Homo sapiens: one gene and its partners. The protein of the gene in region 3 interacts with the protein of the main gene of each other region in a biochemical or structural test. Each region holds a gene or a part of one and is shown on either strand. Other genes may lie near its edges. The genes, in order: MAGI1, DLG4, NET1 and DLG1.

The links.
Region 1: the proteins of NET1 (region 3) and MAGI1 form a complex in vitro, tested with the Homo sapiens proteins (3 studies listed by BioGRID and IntAct, with this or other methods).
Region 2: the proteins of NET1 (region 3) and DLG4 interact in a biophysical measurement, tested with the Homo sapiens proteins (2 studies listed by IntAct, with this or other methods).
Region 4: the proteins of NET1 (region 3) and DLG1 form a complex in vitro, tested with the Homo sapiens proteins (3 studies listed by BioGRID and IntAct, with this or other methods).

Annotation. Positions count from the first base shown.
Region 1 is NC_000003.12:65,377,905-65,384,930, forward strand, and holds part of MAGI1 (membrane-associated guanylate kinase, WW and PDZ domain-containing protein 1), read right to left. Parts: intron 5,720-7,026; coding exon 5,628-5,719; intron 4,166-5,627; coding exon 3,973-4,165; intron 3,223-3,972; exon of another isoform or gene 3,145-3,222; intron 1,651-3,144; coding exon 1,357-1,650; intron 1-1,356. UniProt on the Homo sapiens protein: Plays a role in coupling actin fibers to cell junctions in endothelial cells, via its interaction with AMOTL2 and CDH5. May regulate acid-induced ASIC3 currents by modulating its expression at the cell surface.
Region 2 is NC_000017.11:7,200,620-7,207,645, forward strand, and holds part of DLG4 (disks large homolog 4), read right to left. Parts: intron 6,653-7,026; exon of another isoform or gene 6,336-6,652; coding exon of another isoform or gene 6,312-6,335; intron 4,569-6,311; exon of another isoform or gene 4,327-4,568; intron 3,634-4,326; coding exon 3,580-3,633; intron 3,449-3,579; coding exon 3,389-3,448; intron 3,198-3,388; coding exon 3,073-3,197; intron 2,975-3,072; coding exon 2,805-2,974; intron 2,711-2,804; coding exon 2,574-2,710; intron 2,429-2,573; coding exon 2,284-2,428; intron 1-2,283. UniProt on the Homo sapiens protein: Postsynaptic scaffolding protein that plays a critical role in synaptogenesis and synaptic plasticity by providing a platform for the postsynaptic clustering of crucial synaptic proteins.
Region 3 is NC_000010.11:5,408,418-5,415,557, reverse strand, and holds the start of NET1 (neuroepithelial cell-transforming gene 1 protein), read right to left. Parts: upstream 3,002-7,140; 5' UTR 2,866-3,001; coding exon 2,738-2,865; intron 1-2,737. UniProt on the Homo sapiens protein: Acts as a guanine nucleotide exchange factor (GEF) for RhoA GTPase. May be involved in activation of the SAPK/JNK pathway Stimulates genotoxic stress-induced RHOB activity in breast cancer cells leading to their cell death.
Region 4 is NC_000003.12:197,134,587-197,141,612, forward strand, and holds part of DLG1 (disks large homolog 1), read right to left. Parts: intron 5,679-7,026; coding exon 5,554-5,678; intron 3,806-5,553; coding exon 3,636-3,805; intron 2,093-3,635; coding exon 1,956-2,092; intron 1-1,955. UniProt on the Homo sapiens protein: Essential multidomain scaffolding protein required for normal development. Recruits channels, receptors and signaling molecules to discrete plasma membrane domains in polarized cells.

The DNA of each region.
Region 1 (7,026 bases), on a different chromosome or scaffold from region 3:
AAATGGAGGCCAAGTGAGCTCTACTGGATGAGAATGCTAAAGGGTTGTAGCACCTTGCTGATTCTAGCCAGTTTCCATGTGGATAAGTCATTCAGGGATAGAGCTGAGGTACATGAAAAGCCCACACAGCCTGCACAGCCCTTCCCCTTCTCCCATTGTATTCCATAGTAAGTAACAAATGTGCTTGGGAGATAACAAATGACTTTTTACCCAATCAGGAAGGTGGATCATTTTTGGAGTGTACATCTATAATCAATCCATTGCAATGGGAAGCAGATTCATATATCACTAGTTTCTGCAATCATCTGGGTTTCTATTGGTCTTTGCTAGTGTACCCAGAAGAGAGTGAATCCTTCTGAGAAAGTGACAACTGTGTTTCTCCATACTTTGCTGAAACCCTCAATGTCTGGACGAGACAGGAAAATCGAATGACTCTTAACTCAGATTTTAACCAGACTTTAAATCAAGCAACAGTAAAAATATTATTTAAAATTAAAAAAAATTCCTATGGGGATAGAGTAGAGAAAGAACACAGATGAGGCAGACTAGCATCTCATGTAGTATTTTTACTCCTTACACCTCTGTTTTTCCTAGAGCATTTTTACAGCCGTATGCTCCTTGTAAAAACTCTTAAGACATTCTTAAGACCATTCTGAGGCCCTTGCAATTAGTGCTATCCTATTCAAGACCTTTCGAAAGCCTTGCTTTGGCAAAAACTGTAGACTCTGTATGCTGTCCAGGGGTTCCTATTCAAATTTCTTTTCTTTCCTTTCCTTTTCTTTTTTTTTTTTTTTTAAGACAGAGTCTCGCTGTGTCACCCAGGCTGGAATGCAGTGGCACAATCTCGGCTCACTGCAACCTCCACCTCCCAGGTTCAAGCGATTCTCTTGCCTCAGCTTCCCAGGTAGCTGGGATTACAGGCATGCACTACCACGCCCAGCTACTTTTTGTACTTTTAGTAGAGACAGGGTTTCACCACGTTGGCCAGGTTGGTCTCAAACTCCTGACCTCAAGTGATTCACCCTCCTCGGCCTCCCAAAGTGCTGGGATTACAGGCGTGAGCAACAGCGCCCGGCTGCTATTCAAATTTCACGCAAATCTGATGTATGCTTTAAGTTGTGTATGCGTGATCACATTCTCAGTGTGGAAGTTGAAAGGGTTGAACAAATATTCCCAACCTTCAAAAGGGAAAAAGCTACCAAATCAACTCCATCTCCAATTAAGTCTTTAATTACCCAGAGCAAGAAGCTATAAAGCATTTCTGCACGTGAGGTCTGAGTCAGCTTTCACTCGCAAGAGAACAAAAACTCCCAGGCATGGTGGGAAACCCTGGGTAATTTCACGTTCAGCACTCACCAAAGGTCGTGCCTGCTTCGGGCCTGCTCACCGAGGACACGATGACGAAGCCGAAGCCCTCGTTCTCCCCGCGCCGGATCTCCACGTCGTAGGGCTGCACCACGGTGCTGACCACGCCGCTGCCCCCGCCGCCGCCACTGCCGATGCCGCTGGTGCTGCCGCTGCCCGAGCTCACCGTGTTCAGCGAGTTCTGGCTGCCCTGCGGAGTGCGCTTCTCTTCTGTCAGCGAGGCCGGCTGGTTGCTACTGTGATGAGAGGAGGCTGGCGAGGGCACCTCGTTCTCGGTTTTGGGCACTGTAGCAGAGAGATGCACGCGTACATCACCGTGTCCTGCAGCCCCTCCATCCTGCTGCCCCTCCCTCCTTCCAGCAACTCCTGCTAGAAATCAAAACGTGAACCGAGGGGAGGAGACAGCACCTGGTTTCACAATACCTGGATATACGGATTGAAAGCAGCTTCTCTTGACAAATATTAACCATTCAGTATCTACGAACATTGATCCCACCTAACACCAAATGGGACTCCCAAATAGCGTTTGTTGTTTATAGCATGCTATATGTCGACATCCACACTCAGAATCAAGTCTGCAGCAAGATCGGCCTGCTGTGAAATATTTCCCCATTGCACAAAGGGAAGGGCCTAAGCGTAGGTGAGGGCTACACCCGTGAAGACCGCCATCTTGGCTTCATAGATACAACCTTGGATGCACGTTCACATTGTCATTACTTTCCAGTCACATTTCCACCCAGCTTTTTCCATCAGGCGACAAACAGTAAGGTGATGGTAACGTTGAGGCTACCCGCCCTATGTGGGGTTCATGACAACACCTGTGAGACATACACATGCTTCTCTTCTTAGCTTCCAGGTGTCAACATCGACTCTGATCACAGAACTGGATACACTGGCCTCCTTCTGAATTTAGTCACCGTTCTAGTGTTACCATCAGACTGCAAGGTAAAGCACTCCTAAATAGCCAACACCGTAGGTGGAACCAACTATGCCAAAAAACAAAATGTGTGTTGTGTCCAAGTTTTGGATCAGACTGTATTTATTTCCAAAAGCTTCTCTTTTCATAGATTGTTTTAATTTTGGAAAAATAAGCATAACAAATTTTTAAACCATTTTTAAGCATACAGTTGAGTGGTATTAAGTGCATTCACATTTTTGTGCAACCATCATCATCATCCATCTCCAGAATTTTGTCATTTTCCCAAATTGAAACTCTGTACTCATTAAAAACTAATTCCCCTTCCTATTTCCTCCACCCCCCACCAACCATCATTCTGCTTTCTATCTCTATAAATTTGACTACCCTAGGTATCTCATATAAAGGGAATCAATATTTCTCCTTTTGTGACTAGTTCACTTGCATAATGTCTCTTCATAGATTTGACACGCCTTTTACACAGAGCTAAAAATCCAAAATATTTAAGATTTAAAAAAATAAACCTGAAACAACAAAAAAAATCACATTGCCTTACTATTTCTATTTGGGCCAGGGAAGCGAGATAGTTAGTTTTCATCTCATCTCAAAAACTCGTTCCAGCTGACTGCTTTTAGCTACATGGAATAGTATGTTAAGAAGGATTGTGAGGTCACAAACACACTGGAATTTAACATCTTAATTCTATAATTAATCATATACCATTTAAAATGGGTTATACTCTTTTTTTTTAAAAGAAGTTACCAATTAATTTTATCTGACAGGTATCTGTTTCACTAATATGAATGCCAAGAGAATTCATAATATTTCAGGTCATATTTCTCCAGTAATTCCACTGATAGAAGACAATCACCTCTGCTGCACTCTGGGTTCTGCCTTAAAGGTTTCAAGGTGGGAGCTGCATCCAAAGGTGAACAACCAAGGTGTGTTCAACGTGAGCTTTCAAGGGAAAGGACAAACACTCACACAATTCACTGTCTCAAAATGGCAGATTCTGATACAGCAGTAAACCATGAGTCACTAGAATGGCAAGGAGGGAATGCTAAAATCTGAAGGCAGTTGGAGGAAGGAGGAATTTCCAAGGGAAGAAAGTTATATTTGAGCTGAGCCTGAAAGGATATGTAGTATTTTGAGAATTAAAGTTCAAAGCTTATGGGCAGGAAGAAGGAATCAAAGCTGACCTAGAACTGGCCAGCTCTACAACTTTCTTGTAGAAAGAAAAAAAAAAAATCTTGGTTTAATACATAGGACAGTAAGAAATCAGTAACTTTTTTATGAGCTTATTTTGTAGCACAAACCCGATTTTTGTTCCCTTGATATGAAGCTACAACTCTTCTGACTTTCATAATGACCTCATTTGCTGAGGATTAGCATCAAATGAAGAGGATGGCTAAGTTCTGATTTGCAAGGAGATAGAAGGGAAGTAATATATATTCAACTAGCCTTCCTCTGGAAGCCTTTGTTGAACACATGCAAACGGCACATTAAAGTACTTTAGAATGACAGTAATTTTTGCAGGGTTTGAGAGAAGCAAGCCATCTGGAAATTCTGAGCTTGATCACATTTGCAAACATTTGCTAAAATAGACGCTCAAGGAGGCAGACACAGGAAGGAGGCCTTTTCTGTGAATAAAGTGACAACGCACTGTCTGAAGGAATGAATGAAATACATACCCGCAAAAACCACTTTACGCCGCACCGTGAGATTGACGTGGCCTTGCTTGGCAGCTTGTTGCATAAGCTGGACCACAAGCTGGTGTGATTTTCCAATTACTGGCGTCCCATCCACACAGATTAATTCATCTCCAGACCTCAGGCGGCCGTCAGTATCAGCAGCACCCAGTGGTACGATGTGACCAATATAAATCTGTTGAGTAATTGAACGATGGATGAAACATTGCTCTCCTATGTTTACTGTTACATCAATAGCCTTCACATCTCTGGGAACAATTCATTCATTCATGTCTGCAGGCATGCCGCAAACATTTATTGAGCACCCACTGTGTACAAGACATTGTGCTAAGCACTGCAACAATTCTTAAATGGTGGAAAGAGTATTTCTTGCTTAGTTTCCAGATGTTTATCTGTGGCCTATTGATGACTCACTCTCTTTTTCCCCTTTGCAGATATAAATTACTTTTCTCCCTTCATTATATACCCTATTCTTCTTTGGTAGCTACCTAAAAACTCTCTTTCCATAAAACTCTGCTAATTAAAATATTAATATTACTTTTATTTAAGGGTCTAGCATCATGCCTAGGAATAGGGAATCTGTAATAAATACTCTTAAATGAATGAATGAAGCAAAAGTTGGTTGGACATCTCCATTTTTGAAGTCTTTTAGCACCCGAAAGCAGAGCACTCTTTATAGTTAGTGTCTTGCTGTTATATTTGCCATTCACTAAACCTTAGCTAAAATATTTGTGCCTGCCTTGCCTTTCCAGCAGACAATAATGCTATAGCTACCTTTACGTGGCATTTATAGTTTACAAAGAACTTTGACAAAATAGTTGCTAAGAACATGAACTCGAGTCAGACCTTATTTGTCAGTCCCTCCATTTGGTAGCTCTGCGATCTTGGGCAAGTTAGTTAGCCTTTCTTTTCCTTGATGTGAAAACGGGATAAACTGGTGGGTTTGACGGATAAATGAGAGAATGTATGTTAAGAGCCTTTAGCACAGAACCTGGCACATAGTAAGCGCTCGATGAATAATGGCTGTTATTACCACAAGGAAATTAACGATACCTATTTCAGTTTTCTTTTCTTCCTTCAAAGGAACCCTGTTATGTTATTCTAAATTTATTCCAAAATGGAGGACACTGAGGCCCAGGGAAGTTCAATGTTTCTTGACCCTTACTCAGGGTTCTTTCTCAAGTTTTGTAAAGGCAGGGGTCTGACATTCTCCAATCACTGTCTCATAAGGCTTTGCGAAGTACTCTCTGCACACCAGCAACTCAACATACAAAGCCTACTACCTGCTGGCAGAGTGAAGGGACCTGGCCAGAAGGACCAGGCCACTGTGATATTAGGTGATGCCTATTCCTGTTTTGCTTTCTGTTTTCATCTCCCTTGGGGGAAAAGGGGTGGTCTACAGAGGCAGCTCCCACCTTTCACAAACACTCATACAAACTTTTTAGAAAGAATCTAGTCTCTTCTTCCTCAAGACAAAGAGAGCTCCACAAAACCCAATGAGAAACCCACACTACTCAAGATTAAAGAGTCAGTGTTGCATCTAGCTGGACTTAAATCTTGGTGATTTGTCACTGTCGCCAATTTGCTTTGAAGCCTTAGAAAAATATGCTGGGAAGAGAGACAAGCAAAAGACTCACAGGTTCCCCTGGTTCATTTCCACCCAGAATCCTAAATCCAAATCCAGTCTCTTTTCTCCAGAGGAAGATGTCCTGTTCCTGGTAATCTGGAACTGCAGAGAGGGGAGAAAAAAGAGAAGGATTATTTTACTGATAAAAGCAATGATACCCCCAAGATGAACACAGTTGCAGGACAAGAATGGTGGTGCTTGATCAGATGGAAGATTTTCAATATAGGCAAAGAAACAAAATACTCTGAACAGGTGAAATAATGGAAGACACGGGGATAAACAGTGGGAATAGTCACTGAGCCCTAAAGTTCTTCACAGGACCCATCACTGTTTGATAATTCCGAATCAAGCCCAAGCCATGATCCTTAACTACAAATAGTCAGCATTAACTGCTTTCCTCAGTATTCTTGCAAGGAGAATTAAGTAAATTAAAATTATTATGTGCCACACCACAAAGCAGGTGTCCATGTCCAAGAACACTCAGGCTAAGTCAGAGTCACCTCTGAAGCCAGATCTAAGGATTCGGAAGTCATGTTAAGTCACCAGATGTTTCCTCTACTAGAGGATGAAAGAGAACAGCTTGGTTTAAACAGACTTTCTGATTTATCTTTAAGTCACTTTCTTCTTCCTTAAAATAATTAAGGCTAGCAATGCTAATAGGCTTTGTTAGATCATTTTTGCCAAAAATTACTCTAAAACATCCTAGTATTTCTGCATACAGTCAGTCCTCCATATCTGTGGGTTCTGCATCCTTAGATTCAACCAATCACAGATAGAAAATTTGTTAGACCTACAATGGTTTTAGCTGTGATGAATACGTACAGATTTTTTTCTTCTCGTTATTCCCTAAGTAATACAGTATCACAACTATTTACATGGCATTTGCATTGTATTAGATGTCATAAGTAATGTAGAGATGATTTAAAGTATATAGGAGGTGGGGTGCAGTGGCTCACAGTGGCACTCCCAGCACTTTGGGAGGCCAAGGCAGGCGAATCGCTTGAGCCCAGGCATTCAAGTCTGGGCAACATAGTGAGACCTTGTCTCTACAAAAAATAAAAAATGAGCCAGGTATGGTGGTGTGTGCCTGTACTCCTAGCTATTCGGGAGCTGAGGTGGGAGAATCACTTGAGCCAGGGAGGTTGAGACTGCAGTGAGCCATGATTGCCCCAGTGCACTCCAGCCTGGGTGACAGAGTAAGACCCTGTCTCAAATAAATAAACAAACAACAAACAAACAAATAAATAATATAGGAAGGGGTGTGTGTGTGTGTGTGTGTGTGTGTGTTACACACAAATATTAGGCTATTTTCTAGGGATTTAAGCATCCATGGATTTTTATATCCTTGGTGGGGGATGCGGGTGTCCTGAAACCAATCCCCAGCAGACACTGAGGGGTGACTGTACAAA
Region 2 (7,026 bases), on a different chromosome or scaffold from region 3:
CGCCGCAACCTCCGCCTCCCAGGTTCAAGCAATTCTCCTGCCTCAGCCTCCTGAGTAGCTGGGATTGCAGGCATGCACCACCATGCCCGGCTAATTTTGTATTTTTAGTAGAGATGGGGTTTCTCCATGTTGGTTAGGCTGGTCTCGAACTCCCAACCTCAGGTGACTCACCCATCTCGGCCTCCCAAAGTGCTGGGATTACAGGCATGAGCCACCGGCGCGCCCAGCCTGTTTTGGTTTTTTTTTTTTTTTTTTTTTGAGATGGAGTCTCGCTCTATCGCCCAGGCTGGAGTGCAGTGGTGAGATCTTGGCTCACTGCAAGCTCCGCCTCCCAGGGTCAAGGAATTCTCCTGTCTCAGCCTCAGGATTAGCTGGTATTACAGGCGCTCGCCACCACACCCAGCTAATTTTTTTTTGTATTTTTAGTAGAGACAGCGTTTCTCCATGTTGGCCAGGCTGTTCTCAAACTCCTGACCTCAGGTGATCCGCCCGCCTTGGCCTCCCAAAGTGTTGGGATTACAGGCATGAGCCACCTCGCCCAGCCAACAAATAGCCACATTCTTAACTTTGCATATTTTTCCAGTTAATTCACTTAGATTTTGATCTAGATGCACAGTAGTATAATTTACAAATAGAGATAACTTTTGTTTTTCCCTTCCAAATGTAACTATTCTCCTTGTCTTGTTACACTGTCTGAAATCTCTAAAGCAGTGATTCTCAACCACCATAATTTCGCTGGGGCAATTCTGTCATAACATTTTTTAATTGTTATGACTGAGGGGGAGGAGTACCATTGTCATCTGATAGACAGAGGCCAGGGATGCTGCTTAATATCCCACAAGGCACAGAACAACCCCCCACAATGAAGAGTTATTGGGTCCAAAAATGTCAGGAGTAACACTGAGAAACCCTGCTCTAAAGCAATGAAGAATAATAGCAGTGGGAAGAGGCATCCCTGCCCTCTTTGTAAGTTAACGGAGGCCGGGCGCGGTGGCTCACGCCTGTAATCTCAGCACTTTGGGAGGCCGAGGAGGGCAGATCACCTGAGGTCAGGCATTCGAGACCAGCCTGGCCAACATGGTGAAACCCTGTCTCCACTAAAACTACAAAAATTAGCCAGGCGTGATGGTGGGCACCTGTAATCCCAGCTACTCGGGAGGCCGGGGCAGCAGAATCACTTGAACCTGGGAGGCAGAGGTTGCAGTCAGCTGAGATCACACCACTGCACTCCAGCCTGGGCAAGAAGAGCGAAACTCCATTTCAAGAAAAAAATTAAAATTAAATTAAAAAATAAGTTAATGGACACACTGCTAAAATTGTATCATTATAAAATGTTTGTTACTGGTTCCTGATAACTAGTCTTCACCATCTTAAGGAAAATTTCTGTGTTCCTAGTTTACTAAAAGCTTTCATCCAAAAGAGATGGTGAATTTCACCAAATGCCTTTTTCACGTCTATTTAAGATAATCACATCGTTTTCTCCTCTCGCTCTGTCACCCAGTCTGGTGGGCAGTGGCGCAATCATTGGCTTACTGCAGCTTCCAACTCCTCGGCTCAAGCGATCCTCCAGCCTCAGCCTCCCAAGTAGCAAGGAGTATAGGCACGTGCTAATTTTTTTAATTTTTTTAGAGACAGGATCTCGCTTTGTTGCCTAGGCTGGTCTCAAATCCCTAGCTGGTCTCAAATCCTCCCACTTTGGCCTCCCAAGTGCTGGGATTACAAGCATGAGCCACCACACTTAGCCTCCCGTAACGTTTTAATATATGAATCATATTAAGAGATTTCCTAATATTGAGCCATCTTTAGTTTTCTGAAACAAACCCTATGTTATTCCCTTAACATGCTGCCATGTTTGCTTTGCTACTATATTATTGTAAACTCTTGTATCTCTATTCAGAAGCAAAACGGGTCTATACTCTCCTTATTTTACACTATCCTTGTGACCATTCGAACTGGCCTTATAAAATGAAATGTGAAATCTTTTATCTTTTCCTGTACTCTGGAAGAGCAGAAGAATTATCTATTCCTTGAGAATTTCACAAAATTAGCCATAAAACCAACCAGGCTTTGTGCCTTCCAGGAGAGAGATCGTTGACGATCTTTTCTAGTTCTTTTATGGTAATTGATTTTCCATCTCTTCTCCAACAACAGCAAGGATCAGAGGTTGTGGCTATTTCATAGGGAATATCTGAAGAGGGACAGCTACAGGGATGTCGTGGGACTGCATGTCATGGGTTAAACGGGATGGGTCATGGGGAACTTTGGTGTTTGAAGGGCTCTCACAGGTTGTGATGTCTGGGGGAGCATAGCTGTCACTCAGGTAGGCATTGCTGGGCTTGGCCACCTTTAGGTAGACAACATCATACGTGTTCTTCAGGGCTGCCACAGCATCTTCATGCATGACGTCCTCTAGCCCCACACTGTTGACCTGGAGTCAAGGAAAGCAAAGCTCAGACAAAGCCACAAATGGCCCAAGACAGAAGCACTGGGGTGAAGTGATGAACTTGGGCCTGCCAGGGCTAGTAGGTGAGACCCAAATCTGGGCTAGAAAATGGGCTAGATGGAGTCCTCACCGCCAGGATCTTGTCTCCAATCTGCAACCTCCCATCCTTGTGGGCAGCACCCCCTTCGATGATCTTTGTTACATAGATGCTATTATCTCCTGGGATGTGCTGGTTCCCTACGCCCCCTGCGATGCTGAAGCCAAGACCTGGATGGAGGGGAGGCCAGAGGTGGGTGCCCAGGAAGCAGGCTTGGGGGCACAGGACAGTTGGGATGGGGGTGGGAACAAAATGAGTTACTACCTTTAGGCCCCTTGATGAGCTTGATCTCCATGACCTTCTCAGCCGGGGGCTTCCGGCGCATGACATAGAGGCGAACGATGGAGCCTGCCTCTTTGAGGGCTTCCACCGCCGCTGAGTGGGTCACCTCGCGCACGTCCACTTCATTTACAAACAGGATGCTGTCGTTGACCCTGGGAGCAGCAAGGTGGGCCTGAGCCAAGAGCTTCCTGCTGCCCTGGCCCTCCCTCTCCAGGGACCAAGCAACCTAACCCCTGTCTCCTCTCCCCACCTGAGGCGGCCATCCTGGGCCGCAGCCCCACCAGGAATGATCTTGGTGATGAAAATGGATGGGTCGTCACCGATGTGTGGGTTGTCAGTGCCACCTGCGATGCTGAAGCCCAGACCTGAGTTACCCTGGGTGAAGGAGGGGAAGAGGGTCAGCTCCCCTCACTGCCCAAGTCTGGCAAGGCAAGTGGGGTGGGAAATGGCTTGGAGCAGCCAGAGGAGGAAGGCACAGGGTGAGGGGCTAGCCACCCAGACCACATGGCAGAAAGAAAGGTACAGACGGGAGGCCACGGGGACTGCCGATGGAGGAGCCTGCTCACCCTTTCCAATGTGATTTCCTCGTATTCCATCTCCCCCTCGGTCCCGTTCACCTGCAACTCCAGCACGGGACAGAAACACAAAAGCAGTGAGACAGACATTCCTGTCTGACCACCTGCCCGTCATCTGCTGCCCTCCCTTACTCCCTCCTTCCTTCTGCAATGGCCCCAGCCCCAAAATCTAAACAACTCACATATCCTGGGGCTTCTAGGGTATCTGTGTTGACAATCACTGGGGGAGAATTGGCCTGTTTGGGAAAACAAGAGACAAAAAGCAGCCTGAGCCTTGACTCGAGAGGGAGCCCATAACGGAGGGTCCCATCAGCGTGGCTACCCTTTCAGCCTCTTAGCCAAGCCCACTCCGCCACCCTGAGAGCTGCTCAAGGGCCCAGCCTCAATCCACATCACACACACGCACACGCGTGCACATGCGCACGCGCACACACACGCACAGATGCACACGCGCAAGGATCTAACTCTGCCCAGCCCGGGGCCCCCTGCATGTGGAAGGAGGTGTAGGAGAAGCGGGAAGGGAGACAGCCAGACGGAGAGGGGAGCAGCAGATGGCAAAGAGTGGGGAGAGGGGGGTAGGCTTGGGGGAAGGGAGCTTCTCACCGGATGTAACACCACAGGGTGTTACATGCCTTATGTGCTACACATGGACACCCCAGGGATCATGTCCACCGGGTCCTGGTCCCCATTTCCTGCCCCATCCCCCCAACCCCCCATATCTACCCAGATATTTTCATAACCCTCCCCTAGACTTGCCCCTCACTTTCACAGACATTTGCCCTAAACCCTGCACCCCGGGAATCCGGGGTTCCCCAGCTGCAGGCCCCTCCCTCGGTCTCACCAACCAGCCGTCCAATCCACCCCTTCCTCTAAGGACCGTGTTGCCTAGCAACGGTATCTAGGACCAGTCAAGACCCGGGGAGACCCACCTCCAGGAGGCCCTGTCGTCAGGACAACAGGGGGGTGGGGCGTGGCCTGGGGCCGACCAAACTCCTGAGCGCAGAAGGGATCCGCTAGCCCCGCCTCTCCTGCCCTGGGCCCCGCCCCACGTTAGCCAGGCCGAGAGGAGGCCGGGCTGAAGAGGTTTGTGGGCGCAGCGCATCCTGAATAACCTGCCTTCCTCGCTCCCCTACGCCCCTCACCCTACGCAGTGCAAAGGACGTCAGGAACTGGGAGTGGTGAAAGACATCCGGGTCCTATCCCGCTCATCTACTCCCTCCCCCCACTTCATTCGGGAAAGGGTTAAAGTGGGGCGTGCCCAGGTCCCTGACGTCAATCGCCTGGTCTCTAGACTCCCAGGCGGGGCCCGCTTTAGCCCGGTCCTAGGGGCTTCCCCAATTGCCAGGGCAACCGAAGCCACGTCTCTATGGCAATGGGGGGAGGCCGCCAAGAGCCTCCTTCCGGGGTCCCCAACCTACTTCCTCCTTAAAGAAACATGTATTTGCAGTCGCCCAAGCGCAAGGATTCCCCAGTCTCCTTCCCGCTCTCCCCGTCCAAAGGGGTCCCTCCCCTCTCCTACTGCTATTTCTCAAGCCTACAAACTACCGACCATTTTCAAGCTGTATCACAGATTTCACACCCATAAATCTATTAACACCACCCTCCAACCCTTCACATATCAGCAAATGCTGTTGTCCAACCAACAGTCACTGACTGCCAAAATCTCATCCACGTGTTCATCCCCCATCCCACAGCCCGTCCCCCATCCCACAGCCCGTCCCCCATCCCGCAGCCCGTCCCCCATCCCGCAGCCCGTCCCCCATCCCGCAGCCCGTCCCCCATCCCGCAGCCCGTCCTCCATCCCATAGCCCGTCCTCCATCCCATAGCCCATCCTCAATCCCCATCCCCATCCCTATCCTGGAACCTCCTTCCCAGCACACCCACCTTCATCCACTACGACATTCATTTGCTTCCCATCCCTATCTCTGCCCGCATCCCACATGCTCCATCTCCATCCCTGTCTCGCCCTTCAACATCCATCTTCCAACCCCAGCCTCCATTCTCCATCCGCTTCCCTGGCCCTGTCGCACCCTCCAGCCCCATCCCTTACCAATGTGGCCTCATCCTCCATCCCAATTTCTTTTTTTCCAGAGACAAGGTCTCGCTGTGTCACCCAGGCTGGAGTGCAGTGGTGTGATCATAGCTCACTGCGGCCTTGAACTCCTGGGCTCAAGCAGTCCTCCCACCTCAGCCTCCTGAGTAGCTACAGGCACATGCCACCCCACCCAGCTACTCCATCTCAATTTCTGATTCCCCAGAGAGTTTATCACCATTCTCCCTTACCCTACCTTCATACCCTCAAGATTATTCTCAAGTAACAATCTTACACTTCTCAATCAACTCCCCTCTCTTCTGAAAATTGGGGCTTCTCCTGTTCCCCAGGTGAGGCCTTGTCCTGAGACCTCCACCCCATGCTTATGGCCTCCAACACTCTCTCCCTCCACCCCCTTCTGCTCCTGAGCTCTGATCAGCAGCAGCTCTGTACTAACTACCACCCCTCAGGCTCCCTACCTCCTCTTCCCCCTGCTCAGGGATTTAATGGCCCTGCCTTGCACAAAGCATCTCTAGTCTTCTTTCCCTCACTCCTAGCATCCACAGAATTCGCACAAACACTCTGTACCATCCCTGTCTCCAGGGCCTTCCTTTCCTTGCTCTGTCAGCCTCATTCACTGCCCTGATCTCACAGTCTTATCCCTATCTGGCCCCTGACCCAGGACCTCTTACCCTTCCTATCCCCCAACTCCTCTCTTGCCAGTTCTAACTCCAGAACCTGCTTGCCCGCTCCCTAGGCTCAGAGACCTCCTCCCCATCTTCTTGGTGAAATGTCAGCAACCTCCCCCTTCCCAGAGCATCCCACAACATCCTAGAATCCCCACCCTGACCCCACAGTGTCCCCTCAATCTCACAGCTTGCCTGGTGCTCTCCAGTCCTCCCCATCCTGTGTCCCCAGAAGAGGAGATGGAGGAAGGGGAAGATGGAAAGTGGACTGGAGAATGGAAGGTCCCAGAAACCAGGCCTCCCGGGACTGGAGAGAGGAGGACGCTGTGAGCAGAGAGGAGAAAGGGAAACAGGTGGTGGGGGATGATGGAGGGGGCAGAGGGGGATAGAAAGAAGATATGGCAGAGGTGAGAACCCAAGAGGATGAGAGAGGGGAGGAGGAAAAGAGGGAAGGTGAAGATGAATAGGCAAGAGGGAACATGGGAAAGGGGAGCTGGCTGATGGAGGGAGAGGACTGATGAGGGAAAGGACTGATCAGGCCCCAGCGGCCTGGGCTGGGGATCAGGGAGAGGGAGAGGAGAATGCGTGGGAGGAAGAGAGAGACAGCATCAAGAGCCAGCCAGCCAGCCAGCCAGCAGGGAGGAAAGGCTGCAGAGGGGGAAGAGAACTCAGGAGTGGAGCAAAGCTGGGGCAGGGGACGAGGCAGCAAGGCCCCACCATGTGAAGTCTCAGGCCAGACAGATGGAAAGAGCTGGAGACTTGGGGACAGGGCGAGCCAGGCCCAGAGGCGGAGGTAGGGGGAGGAGGCGGGGAAGGGACAAGAGCAAATGAGGGCAGCAGGCGCTTGGAACAGAGCTCTGGACACAGAAAATGGAAATGGAGGTTGGGGGTGTGAAGGAATGAAGAGGTC
Region 3 (7,140 bases):
TGAGGCAGGAGAATCACTTGAACCCGGGAGGCGGAGGTTGCAGTGAGCCGAGATCATGCCACTGTACTCCAGCCCCGGTGACAGACTGAGACTCCGTCTCAAAAGAAAAAAAAAAAAGAGCAAAGGATGGCCCACCAAAAATGGCCACACACATTACATAAATCCATTCATATGCAATGTCCAGAACAGAGAAATTCCTACAGACCGACAGATTAGGTTTTAGGGCAGAAGGGGTAGGAGAGGAACAATAGCTAAAGGGTACAAATGCTCTTTTTGAGGTGATGAAAATGTTCTAAGTAGTACAATTTAAGTGGGTAAATTGTACTGTACGTATTTGTCTTTCAAATTAGTTTATACTGAGTTTTGCCTGCAGAACGTTTTTCAATAGTCACATAATCATACACACAAATCTTTTTCCTTATGATTTCTGAATCTGATACAGTGCTTAGTTGCTTCTTGCCTCACAATTAATACTATCTTGTAATATTTTACGTATTCTTGTAGATGATCTTACATCTTTTCTGGAAAAGGAATATGTTATTTAATTCTCCATTTTCTCTCCATGGTTCTTCTAACTGTGTCTCACTCTCCTCATGCTGCCTGTGTTACTACGCTTTTCTCACAATGTATCATTTCCTACCTCACACAAAAAATAGAGGCCTGGTGGGAAAGTCCTCAAATTCCTGCTCACAACACACCCCATTCTTCAAAACTATATATCATCCATAGCTTCTTGTTAGGCTAAATCCTCTACCTTGAATTTGGATTCTGTCCTTTTCTGCCTTCTTGGATCCTTGTTCAACCATTTTTCTCCTCTACTGTCTGTTCAACCTCTCCCTCTATTTGTTAACTCAGCACAGCACATCAAGGGAATTTATTCTTTCTTAAGAGTCTATCCCACAAAATTGTGTTATTTCTCTCTATTCTTTCTTGTCTTCCTGTTGCAGTGAAACTTCTCTTCACCAATCCCATTGCCAGCTATCAGATTCGAACAATCATTTTTTCATTTAGACTACTGCAGACTGATTTCCTACCAATCCATCAGCTAAACTTGGAAATTTTAATTTGGTATACACAGCTGGGTCCACAAATCTCCTGAAATGTTTATGTATATGTGCACATTTTTGGGGAATAGTTTTCATAAAATATGAAGAGTGAGATGACTCCAAAATGTTGCTTATTTTTCTCATGGAAGGCAAACTGATCTTTTAAAATGCAAATATGTCATGCCATTGGCTCATTTAAAGTCTTTCAGTATTTCCCCATTACCATGAAGATAAAACCCAAACTCTGTCAAGGCATACAAGGTCTCTTCATGATGTGGCGCTTACCTCTTTAGCATCATCTCTCATGACTACCTCCTCCTTCTCCCCATATTGGTTTCCTCTCCTCTATACAAATATCACTGTTAATATAGTAATAAAATAGAATATATACCCAGAACTCATCAGACTCATTTGCTTCAGGGCCTTTCTACATGCTTCTCTGCCTGAAATCATCCATTTACATCTGCTCTCTAAACTGGTCCTTAAAGACTCAGGGATTACAATAGGAAATCATTTCCTATTCTCTCCAGTCAGGATTAAGTGTTCCTTTTAATCTACGGCATTCTGTGTATATCACTATAATAACTTTTATCACATATTATAATAATTATTAACCTACTTATCTTTCTTCCCCACTAGATTATAAATCTTAAATAGTAACAAGAGTATTTTTCCATTTCCATATTCCTAGTGTTGGCACTCACATTATTTTCTGAACAAATCGCACATTCTCTTCTCAACCTGTTGCAAAACACTCTAAGTTCGATATTGTAACCATTCTTGGAAACCATCTAAGATCAATACTCTCTTCTCATTACCAAATTTAATTTTCATTCCTCATCTAGCTTAATCCTCATCTTATTTTACTTAATCCTCATTTTATTTGACCTATCAATAACATCTGACATAGCTCGCCACGTCCTCTTCTTGAAATTCTTTCTTCATTTGGCCTCCTGGATACTGTTCTCACTTGGTTCCCTTCCTCCTAATTCACTAGCTATCCCCTGAGCTTCGCTTTGTGAAATTTCACTGAGCCAAACACGAGTCATACACTCTCATTTCAATGTATACTTCCACAAAAAGTAAAAAGAAAAAACACGAAAATGGTTGTGATGAACTCTCTAATAGGCATCTCATAACATATCCCGAAGTCAACTTATCCCTTAGTCTTTTCTTTCTCAGGACATGGAAGCCCATTCTCGTGGTGCTCACCATGACAGTTTCGGTCTGAGCAAAGGCATTTGGGAACGCCAGCCTACAGCCAGTTGGGTGTGCAGAACAAAACCATTGTGGTTTTTCCTAAGTCTCCCCTGAGAAACAGTCAGGAGGCGAGGAGACTCAATAAACCCGCCCCTTTGCCACAGGCAGGGAAAATCGCAGTTTGGGGTCTCAGGACCGACCTCGGTCCAAGGCCAGGCACACTGTCACTCCAGCCTGTGCCACCCTCACTTCCAGCGGCCCCCGTCCCCCCCCCCAACCCCGCGGTCACCTCCCCCACCCCCCACTCACCTCCCAGCGGCCCTCGCCTCCCCCTGGCCCTCACCAACACCCCCACTCGCCGCCCCCCACATCCAACTCCCGGCCAGCCCTCCCCTCCCCCCGGCCCTTGCCTCTCCAACACTCACCTCCCGTTCGGCCCTCCGCTCCCCTACACTCACCTCCCGTTCGGCCCTCCCCTCCCCCACACTCACCTCCCGTCCAGCTCCGACCCGGAGGTGTCGGCCGAAGGCCCCGTCGCTCCCTCCGTGCTGAGCCCAGAGGCCCGGCGGCTTCGCCTCCGCGGTCGAGGCTGCTTCTGAGCCGCCAGCTCGGGCTCCATGGCACGGAGGAGGGGGTGGGGCGGTGGCCGGGTGCCCGGGAGACCGGCAGGGACGGGCACGATGCCCGCCAGCCTCTGCCAGGCAGAAAGCGCCTGTCAGCGGACTGCAGCCGCCACCGCCGTCATCCGGGGATTTGAAAATGGCGGCTGAGCAGCGATCAGCCAATCAGTGAGCGCGCAGCGGTTCCTAGGAGACGTGGAGTCCCGCCCCTCCACCGCTCCCGGGATCTACTTGCCTAGGAAAGAACCTAGGAAAATTTGCCCTTAACTCCTGAGCGCATCCCTGAGTCCCTAAGGCCCGGTACCTCCTTCATTGTTCATTAGGACTTTCACTACAGGCCAAGGCAAATGGACTGGAAGCATTTTAATTCACCAGATCTTTCTTAGCATTTGAGGAGAAGAGAGGTCCAAACTAATGACCTGTAAACAAGGCATGTTTATTGGCCATATTCACACTGAATTATTGTGCACGTGGCCAATATGAGATATATTTCCAATTACCAAAGGTTATGCAAGTGTGTTCCCGGGACTGTCTCTAGGGAACCAGCAAAATCTAATTATGAGCCCTTATGTCTTCCAATAAGCATGACACAGTCTCTCCCTAGCAAAACAGAATGAAGTGACTTCATCCTTTGCTTGTAAAAGTCAGCAAAAGACATAATATAAAATAAAAGACCGCTTCAAGTAAAAAAAAAATTGTTAAACAAATTACACTTTCTTTGATTTTAAATATTGCTTTATATGTGTCAAAGTCTTTAAAAATAGCTTCTCCTGACCGGGCGCTGTGGCTCACGCCTGTAATCCCAGCACTTTGGGAGGCTGAGGCAGGCGGATCACGAGATCAGGAGATCAAGACCATCCTGGCCAACATGGTGAAACCCTGTCGCTACTAAAATACAAAACTTAGCTGGGCAGAGTGGCGCATGCCTGTAATCCCAGCTACTCAGGAGGCTGAGGCAGGAGAATTAGTTGAACCAGAGAGTCGGAGCTTGAATTGAGCCAAGACCGTGCCACTGCACTCCAGCCCAGTGACAGAGCGAGACTCCGTCTCCAAAAAAAAAAAAACAAAAAAACACTTCTCTTTTGCCAGTATATTTCCACTTATGGAAATTTATCCTAAAAAATAAAATTATATAAACATGAAGCTATTAATGACATTGTTTATAATAGAAACATTTAAAACAACCTAAATAAACAATGATTTATAGCTCATCCACTGAGAAGAATATTTTCAGCCAACAAAAATGAAGTGTGAAGTATGTAATAGTATACTGGTAATTTGAAATAAAAACATGAAGTATAGAGGTATATTCAGTATATTCAAAGTTATGAATTACAAGAGATTATACAAAGAAAAAAGATAATGTATTAAAATGTATTAAATGTATTAAAAAGTCAATGTATTAAAATGTCTCTAGGTAGACTTTAGGTATTCAAAATTTTTATTTTTATTTTTTGCATTTAATTTTTTTAAAAATAAGGACATATTGAATTTGCAGTACCTTTATAACATGAGGGAAAAATGTTTTTGTTTTAAAAAGAGTAAGAAATTAGGGAGTAACATTGAGATGTGAAGCCAGCTAGACTTCCTGGGTAGAGTGGGGACTTGGAGAACTTTTCTGTCTGGCAAGAGGATTGTAAAACACACCAATCAGTGCTCTGTAGCTAGCAAGAGGATTGTAAAATGCACCAATCAGTGCTCTGTAAAAAGCACCAATCAGCAGGACCCTAAAAGTAGCCAATCACAGGGAGGATTGAAAAAAGGGCACTCTGATAGGACAAAAATGGAACATGGGAGGGCACATATAAGGGAATAAAACCTGGCCACCCCAGCCAGCAGGGCAACCCACTGGGGTCCCCTTCCACACTGTGGAAGCTTTAGTTCTTTCACTCTTTACAATAAATCTTGCTGCTGCTCACTCTTTAGGTCTGTGCCACCTTTAAGAGCTGTAACACTCACCATGAAGGTCCATGGCTTCATTCTTGAAGTCAGCGAGACCATGAACCCACCGGAAGGAACCAGCTCTGAACATAAGTTGACCTTGGTCAAGAACCACTTCTGTTCTACCTTCCCCATCCCTCCCCAAAAATTAAAGAAGAAAGTACTGCTTTGTAGCAGTTAGAGTGTAAGAATACAGAAATGTTCTTAATATTTGGGGAGTTGGTCTCCACCAAGACAGAGCTTCAGAGGATGCAGATGTTTAGATTATGAACAAAAATAAACCTGTAAGAGCAATTCTTCAAGTCAGGTCCCAAGTAGGTCACAACTACTCTGTGTCCAGAAAACTCACACCCCTTTGGGATTTTCACAATTTACCCGAATTGACCAATCAGGGCTCACCTGATGTAACCGATCAGAACTCATCTGCTTTATCCAATCAGGGTTCAGCTGTATTACCCAATCTGAACTGAGCAAGTCTGAATCTTTCCTTTGCATAAACACATCTGATTGGAAACCTGGACAAGAACTTTTTCTATAGAAGCCAAACCCTCCCCTTTATTCTCTGGAATCACCTTTCTTTTACTCCGAAGGCTGTGTCTCCCTGGTTTGCAAACTGTTCACTAGAATAAAGTCTCCTTTCTCCAAACTTCCTTTTCAGAGAACTTTTGTTCACAAGATAGGACCATGTGAATCGCTGACGCTTGGTCTTTTTACCCACAGAAACAGCCGTTTCATATTAATAGTTTCAACATACTTCGGTGAGATCCTCAGAATTCAGGGTCTGTCCTCAGCTTTGCAGGTCCTGAAACTGGTTTTGATTGTGTCATCAGAGGTGGTCAGTCCTTTGGTAACTTGTAATAACTACTCACAAAATGATAGATACTGCAGGATGTCAATGTGGGGATTCCAGTGGTGGGGGTGGGCACTTCTTTCCAGTGACCTGAATACTATTGTTTTATGCAGAGCAACTGTTTCCAATTTTCATTCACTTGAGAACTTATGATTTTGTTCAATTATTCACAAGAATTTATTAAATTCCTGCTATAATATGCCAGGATCTGTGCTAGACATTAGGGAAATAAGGAATAGAAGACAAATTTTCATCAGAAAATGGCTGGGTACCATAGAAGAAGAGCAAAGAAAAGTGACCGCTCTGAGGGTTGGTCATTGAAGACCTGGGAAAGGCTGGTGACATCTCTTGATCTTACAAGAGATCAACTTTCTGGTGTCTGAATGCCATTGTCCCCATGTTCTATGTCTTACACTGTATAGAACAGTCCCAAAACCATGACAAATGTTCTCTGAATCCTCTCTCTTTCAGTTCCCCACAAATCATCCTTCTCCCTTAAAATATTCACCGGGATAGGGTTTGAGGAAATTGTTTTGATTTCAGCTTTCATATATATAAAATCAGACTCTAGAACTCCCTCTCTGAGAAGATATTCCTACTAACTTGACTAGAGCAAAGTGTAACCCAAACTTTTTCAACCATGGATTTGCAAAACAAATATTCTTTTGGGGAACTTCCTCAAAGATTATTTCCAAAACCTTCAGCCCTATGTGATGACACCAATCATTTTGCAAGTTGATATTAAATAAATTCAACAATCAATAAATGAATGTAAATTATTATGTAAATCAATAATTTAAAAACCTATTTTCTTTCATTATCTAAGTAAATCAAACTATTTTTGCAAAACTGCTTACCAAGTTTTATATATATATATATATATATATGTATATATTAGAGTACAAAGTGTTCATCAAAACACTTTATTAATTTCCAAATTATTTGATGATTTTGATGTGATATTTTGTTTGCCATTGCTATCACTAGCTAAATGATTCCCCTTTGGTCTGTAGGCTCCCATAGAAAAATGTAGCAAATTTGCAAACAATGACCTACCATTAGAAAACTAGTAGTCTTAATAACTAGAGAATTGCCCTTTGCATCAACGTTTTTCTTTTTTGTCTGAATCTTCTCATAGCTTCTCATGAACTAACAGCAATTACATTCAGGAGAATGAATGTCTGTATGTGTGCATATACATATAATTTATATATAGAATGTTATAATAAAGTCTGAAATTTTTAAAAATATATTTACTATATCTACTATTGATTAATTTACAAAACTGTTTATTAGACTGTAATTTTTAATTGGGTCAAACTTAATTGTTCCTGCCAAATGAAAGGGAGTGTAGTCCAACAGCTAAGTATGTGGACTGCATTGATTGTCATTCTGACAAGCAGAAGTGTACTTATAGGCACAATAGGGCAGAATATTTGAAATCAGGTTTGTCATCCCTTAAAATCTATCACTGTGTGTGTAT
Region 4 (7,026 bases), on a different chromosome or scaffold from region 3:
AGATTCTGCTAGGCCTTGGCTGCTTGCTCAGTGGAGAGTCCTGACTATTATACTACTTTCATCTTGTCTCCTGCCCTTCCCAGTTTTCTGAGCCTCTTCTGGCTGGGACTGGGCATGGCTGATGTGTTCCACACAGTGAGGGCCATAACATGTCACAAACCTATGTTTGACCTGTCATACCACTGCAACTCTACCATTTTTGGGCTTGGGTGAAGTGTTGTGCCATGGAGTATAGGAGCTGGCTTCCCTAGAAACTGCGCCCAGGGGAGTTGGGTAACACAATCCAAAAGCTTGGGACAAATAACCCCTAGGGGGTAGACAAGAGACAGGAGAATAAAAGGGCCAGCAGATAAACCTTTCTTTCTTTTCTCTGGATGGCTGGATGTAAGGTTTATGATGCCCGGATGGTTTTTACAGTGTCTGCCTAGAAGACTGTTATACATGACAAGCAACAAGCTACCTTATAAAATTACAGCCAGCTCAGACACATTCTACCTTCTATTGGCTCTCGTTCATTCTCTGCTTCACTCCTCATTTTTACTCACTCTAGCCTTCTTGAGATCACACAGCCAAATAATACCTTAGCACTTTAGCTTTTCTTCAGATTCCGTTTCCCTAAGGAACATGGACTGAGACAGTTATTGATTGATATGGTATGGCTCTGTGTCCCCACCCAAATGTCATCCTGAATTGTAATCCCCATGTGTTGGGGGAGGGACCTTGTAGGAGGTGATTAGATCACGGAGGTGGCTCCCCATGATGTTCTCTTGATAGTGAGTGAGTCTCATGAGATGTGATTGTTTTATAAGCATCTGGCATTTCCACTGCTGGCACGTCTCTCTCCTGCTGGCATGTGAAGAAGGGCGTGTTTGCTTTCCCCCACCCTCCACCATGACTGTAAGTTTCCTGAGTCTGGTGAGTCAATTAAACCGCTTTCCTTTATAAATTACCCAGTCTCGGGTAATTCTTCATAGCAGTGTGAAAACAAACTAATACACTGATGAAGACTGGACAAATAAATTGCAGTACAGACATACAGTGGAATAGTATGTAGAGATAAAATGAATGAACTTTAGCTCTAAGCAATGATATGGGTAAGTCTCAGTAAAGCAATATTGAGTGAAAAAAATACTGGAGATGAAAGTCTCATACAGTGCAATAGTGTTTTGAAAAAGCTTCAAAACAAATAATACTAAACAAAATTATTTAGGCATATGTATATAATTAAACTTTTTTTTTTTTTGAGATGGGCTTTCACTCTGTCACCCAGACTGCAGTGCAGTGGGACAATCACAGCTCACTGTAACCTCAACCTCCTGGGCTCAGGTGATCTTCTCACCTCAGCCTCCCAAGGAGCTGGGACTATAGGTGTATATCACCAGGTCTGGTTAATTTCTGTATTTTTTGTAGAGACAGGGTTTTGCCATGCTGCCCAGGCTGGTCTTAAACTCCTGGGCTCAAGCAATCTACCTACCTCAGCCTCCCAAAGTGCTAAGATTACAGACAGGTGTGAGCCACCACACCCGGCCTGATTAAACAATTTTTAAGAAGCAAAGGAATAAGAAACACAAAATGGTTGATGTTCTAATTCTTGGGCTGGGTAATTACTAGGTTTCATTATACTATTAAGTGAAGTAAAATAAAAAAGGGTCATGCATAAACAAATGATGACATTGTTTTATAAACCTAAGGATTATGATGAAACACTCTGTGCATACAAGCCCTCAACAACAACAAAGGAATAAAAGGAAAAGGGAGGAGGAGCTAGCAGAGAAAAGAGAAATGACAAATAAAGAATTACCAAGAATCATTTTTTAGGATTTGATACAGCAAGGCTAGTATTTGCTAATTTAAACATCATTTAGACCTTTTTGGTATGGAGAAATTCCAGTATCTATCAGAAAAATAAACAGACTACAAAATGATTTAAAAGACAATAGATTTCTTATACTTACTGCTAAAAGTTTATCTCCAATCTGAAGTTTGCCATCCTTATGTGCTGCACCTCCTTCAATTATTTTGGTTACATAGATGCTATTATCCCCAGGAATATGCTGATTTCCAACACCTCCAGCAATGCTAAACCCAAGACCTGTTTGGAAAACAGTTCTAGATTCTCATCCATAAATATGAACTTAAGCCCAGAAAGAAATGGTTGAAAACTACAAGGTAATTATTCCCTCACACTAATATTTTTTAAAATAGAAAAGAATCTATTTAGTTATCTACTAGTATATGTTCTGCAATCAAGGGACACTTAGACATACAGCTGCTCCTAGAGTTACGAATAGATTCCTTTTATCCCACATGTTCCTTCTTAGTATCTTTTCGCAAATGCACTTGTTATTCCAAAGTGACATTGCGAAATTATGTTTTACTTTTGTTTCCATCATAATTATGCTTACCTACACTTTTAATATTTTCACAAGAACAAAATTATTGAGAAGAAATAACAACATTGTCTGGTGATGGTGGGCAGAACCAACAGGCTTTAAAAATGTGAATACCTTTGTTCTTCTTCAATATTCTATGAATTAACAATTTTAAGTAAGGAATTTCTGTAATTCCTAAATCCCATAGCTTCAATATCAGATAATTTCTCAGCTCTCCATTCCTTTTTCATTTGTTGACATCCTCCCTCTTCCATGAAGCCACATATTGAAACTACTATTTCCATTTATCCTCAAGCCATCAATGTTTTAAAAATTCAGCAATCACATCTTAACAGTCCTTTACTGCAGATGTAACTGCTCATAATACATATTATAAACACTTCTTCTTTTAACTTAGCCTGTGTACCTGCATTTAAAGTATTTTGTAGATTATCACAAGTTAATAGCAATACTAAACTTCAAAGTGTTCAAGGACACAAATATTTCACTCTTTTAATGCTAGAAGTCTTCAATATAAGAATACTTAATACAAATAGGGACATATCCACTTATAAAACAAATAGATATTTTGTTCCCTACTTTTAAAAACTCTTAAAAACATGCTGAGCAAATATTGAATATAAAAATCATAAAAAACTTATAAATTTATATATATGCTCACTGCAGTAAAATGTATAAAAGCATACATCAATAAACGTAAGAATTTTGGGCCAGGTGCAGTGGCTCACACTTGTAATACCAGCACTCTGCGGGGCTGAGGTGGGAGAACTGCTTGAGCCCAGGAGTTTGAGACCAGCCTAGGCAATGCAGGGAGGCCTCCGTCTCTACAAAAAATAAAAAAAATCAGCCCAGTGTGGTGGTGTGTGCATGCAGTCCAAGCTACTTGGGAGGGTGAGGTGGGAGGATCGCTTGAGCTCAGGAGGCTGAGGCTGCAGTAAGCCATGACTGCACCACTGGACTCCAGCCAGGGTGACAGGGCAAAACCCTGCCTCAAAAAAACAAACAAAAAAACCCCGCAAAAAAAGGAACTTTTCAAATGCTGCAATCTTGGTAGAAATGTAAATATTCTAAAATGCTACGTAAGACAAAAATCAGTAGAAATAACGGAGAAATTAAAATCCACTCAAGTTCTGTAGAATATTACTAATACTGTACTTGGAATGTATGTCACAGATAAAGTTCATAGGTATATTTAACTCAGAGATTTCTTAAAGATTTATCTTAGTTTGACTTACCACATACCTTTAGGACCTTTAATGAGCTTTATTTCCATTATTTTTTCTGACACTGGTTTCCTTCTTTTTACATACAAGCGTACAATAGACCCTGCTTCTTTCAACGCTTCAACTGCTTTGCTATGTGTTACATCACGAACATCTACTTCATTTACTCGTAATATACAGTCATTGACCCTGAGAAAACAATTAAATATTAAAAATAAAAATTAAATATAATTTAAATATAAATTTTCCACTTTACCAATTTTTTGTTACTTCTTTTTTAAGGTAAAGAGAATTATAAATAATTCTGGAGTAATTCCAGAAAACATAAATGAAGAAAGTATATCAAAAACTAATATAAACAAATACAAACATTTCCCAAGGGCCAGCAAAAGGAACAAAAGAAATAGTGAAAATAATAGATTATATAAAAATGTTAAATAATAATTACAGCTACCATTTGCATACTTCCTGCATGCTTATTCTGTGTAGGCATTAAGACACACTTTATAAAAATAGCAAACATTTATTTAGCACTAACCACATGCCAGGCACTTTCTTGGTATTTTAACCCTCATGACACCTGTAAGCTTAATATATATTTTAATCCCTATTTCACAGATGGAGAAACTGAGGCACAAAGAATGTAAATAACTTTCCTAAGGCCACCCAGATAATAAGTGACAGAGCTGTGATTCAAAGATAAGAAAACTGAGGCTCACATCACGAGTTTAAGGTCACAGAGATAGTGTGAAAACTGAGATAAAGTAAAAATAATTTTCTGAGTGCCTATTCCAACCTATATATTAGACATAAAACAATTAAGTTATTTTTTGAAATTTATATAAAGATTAGGTCACTTAATTCAAAGGTTTCGTAGGTAAAGAACTTATAATTTGCCATGGTGTTATGTTTTTTAAAAGTCTGATTTGTTCCTAGTCTTAGCCTTTTCCCTAGTTCTGGTCTCTTTGATTGCATGGTATTCCACCAGGAAAAAAAGATGGTCATCTCAAATTGGGTAGAGAGGGTAAACAAAACATAATTAAAATATTAAAACTGGTCCTGACAAGCTTCTATATCTAACAGAATCAGGAAGTAAATGTCTACATTTACATGAATGGTCAAATGATTAATTTTTATATCTATTTGATTTCATTAATATACCACCTGTCATACCCAGTGAGAATTATAAAGCTTAGAAATTCAAAAACTGCGTAAGGCATCAACGTCCTTAAAATAAGATGCTGTTTTTAACAGACTACATAAACTCTTTAGTCCTAAAACTTCAGGGTATTTGAACAACAAACAAGGAAATAGGAAAAATGACATAATTTATGACCCTCAAAAAATCAAAGTTTGCAAAATATATCTTCCAAAATGGAACACTAAATTTAAACAGAGACAAATGTTATTTTCATCTAGTCAATAAGAAAATATATTATTTAAAGTTTGCATATAGTCTTTGTGGTGTGGGATTCAACATGGATGTGTGATCCTCTATCCTCCGTATCTTAAATAAGTTTATATACATGTTTCCCAGCCAGAGAGGAAATGGAAAATATTCTGTGAGTGTACTTAAATAAGTTTATACACATGTTTCCCAGCCAGAGAGGAAATGGAAAATATTCTGTGAGTGTATCTGAAAACACAAAGGGAAACTCATGATTTCTATAAATATGCTCACAAAGATTTAAACCATCAACCAAATTTGTTATTCAAAATGTTATAATATCTAAGATAAAACTGGAGTCTAAATGAAAACAGGAACACAATGCTTAGAGCATAATTATCTCATTCATTGACTTGAATGTTGTTAAAGCATCTACCCTATGCTAGTTATCATGATCGTGTTTGTTATTTGTATTTATCCCTTATCCAGTCTGCTTCAAGAAAAATACACAAAGTGGATTCAGCATCACAATAAAAAGCGCAAAACATACCGCAATCTTCCATCTTGGGCGGCTGCTCCCCCTGTGATAATTTTGGTAATGAAAATACTTGAGTCATCTCCAATGTGTGGGTTGTCCGTACCTCCTGCAATGCTGAAACCAAGCCCTGAATTTCCCTGAGGATAGAAGAAAAAAAATTGAGACTGAATATGATTTATCTTTATGGACAGGTTCCTGTCATTAAAGGACGCAGAAACTGTACTAACATAAGGAACACAACAAATAAAGGTATATGGGTGAGTAATATAAAGATTCTAAATTAAATGGACTTGTTCTGGAGGAAAGTCCTTTCAGAGGCATTACTGCTGAACAGGTGAGGTTCAAGAAAATACACCAAGGACTTTTGAAGTATACTCCACAGTTCTTTCTTTAAAAGTATGTGCAACTTGTCGTTGGATTAGTCACCCATCTGCAGAGGTGTCACTGTAAGTCTGTTTCTTTTAGACTGCACCTCAGCCATGTTTGGTAGGGCACATCTCTCCTAAGAGACAAATGCTGAAGTGATCTTCCCGCTGTTATTTCTGAGTAGGCAAAACCCATATACTGTTTTAGCCTTTAAAAAAGGGGGTGGCGATGGTGCTTTTCTTCTGCTAACTTGACATCAGCTTATTTTTAAATGACCAAATTGTGGCTGCTAAGTGATAGCTGCCATCAGTCCCTGACATGTTTAACCAATATACCCGATTAGCAAAAGGCATTGTTTCACACTGACTGAAAGACCAACCTGAGAACTTAACATTGGTGAATTTTCTTGACAGCAAAGTAAATTTTGCCAAAGCAGCTCTACTTTTTGCTTGTTTTATGAACTGGAGAAACAAGATTTCTGAATATGTTCTTCACAGAAAGGGTTCGACTGCTACAAAAAGCCTTTAAAAATAATTGATTTAACCAATGGTATTAAAAAATGTTTATTTCTTGAAGAATGTTCTAACTGAATTTCAGGCAACTCAAGTAAGCAAATATATGTGGACCTATCATTTAACTGTTAGTATTAAACAGTGTAAACACCCACTCTACCACCATTTGTCTTAAAATTCTATTTTAATAAAAAAATGTTTTTCAATCTAACTTCATGAATTACCTGAATCTTAAGAACAGTACCAGTGGATTATGGGAGGTTACCAAATTACTTAGGTACTCAAGTTCTTCAACCAGTGAAAAATACAATGTATAGTCCTAACTAAACAAAAGGAATTTAAAAGGCCCTGGGAAAAGATAAAAAATCAATAATATAAAAAGTTAGGAGACATCACAAACTACTATATTAAAGTATGTACAGTACATTAATACTGTGCTTACTTGAATATTACTCCAGTAGCCACCCAACTTGAGCAAGTGATCCGAATTTAAGTAGATGGCAATAAAGATATACATGTAAGAGACTCTCTCAGATTTATTTTTCTCAGATTCTATTCCAATATAAATAAATCTAATTATCTAGGATTTCAGTCTTGAGTATACACA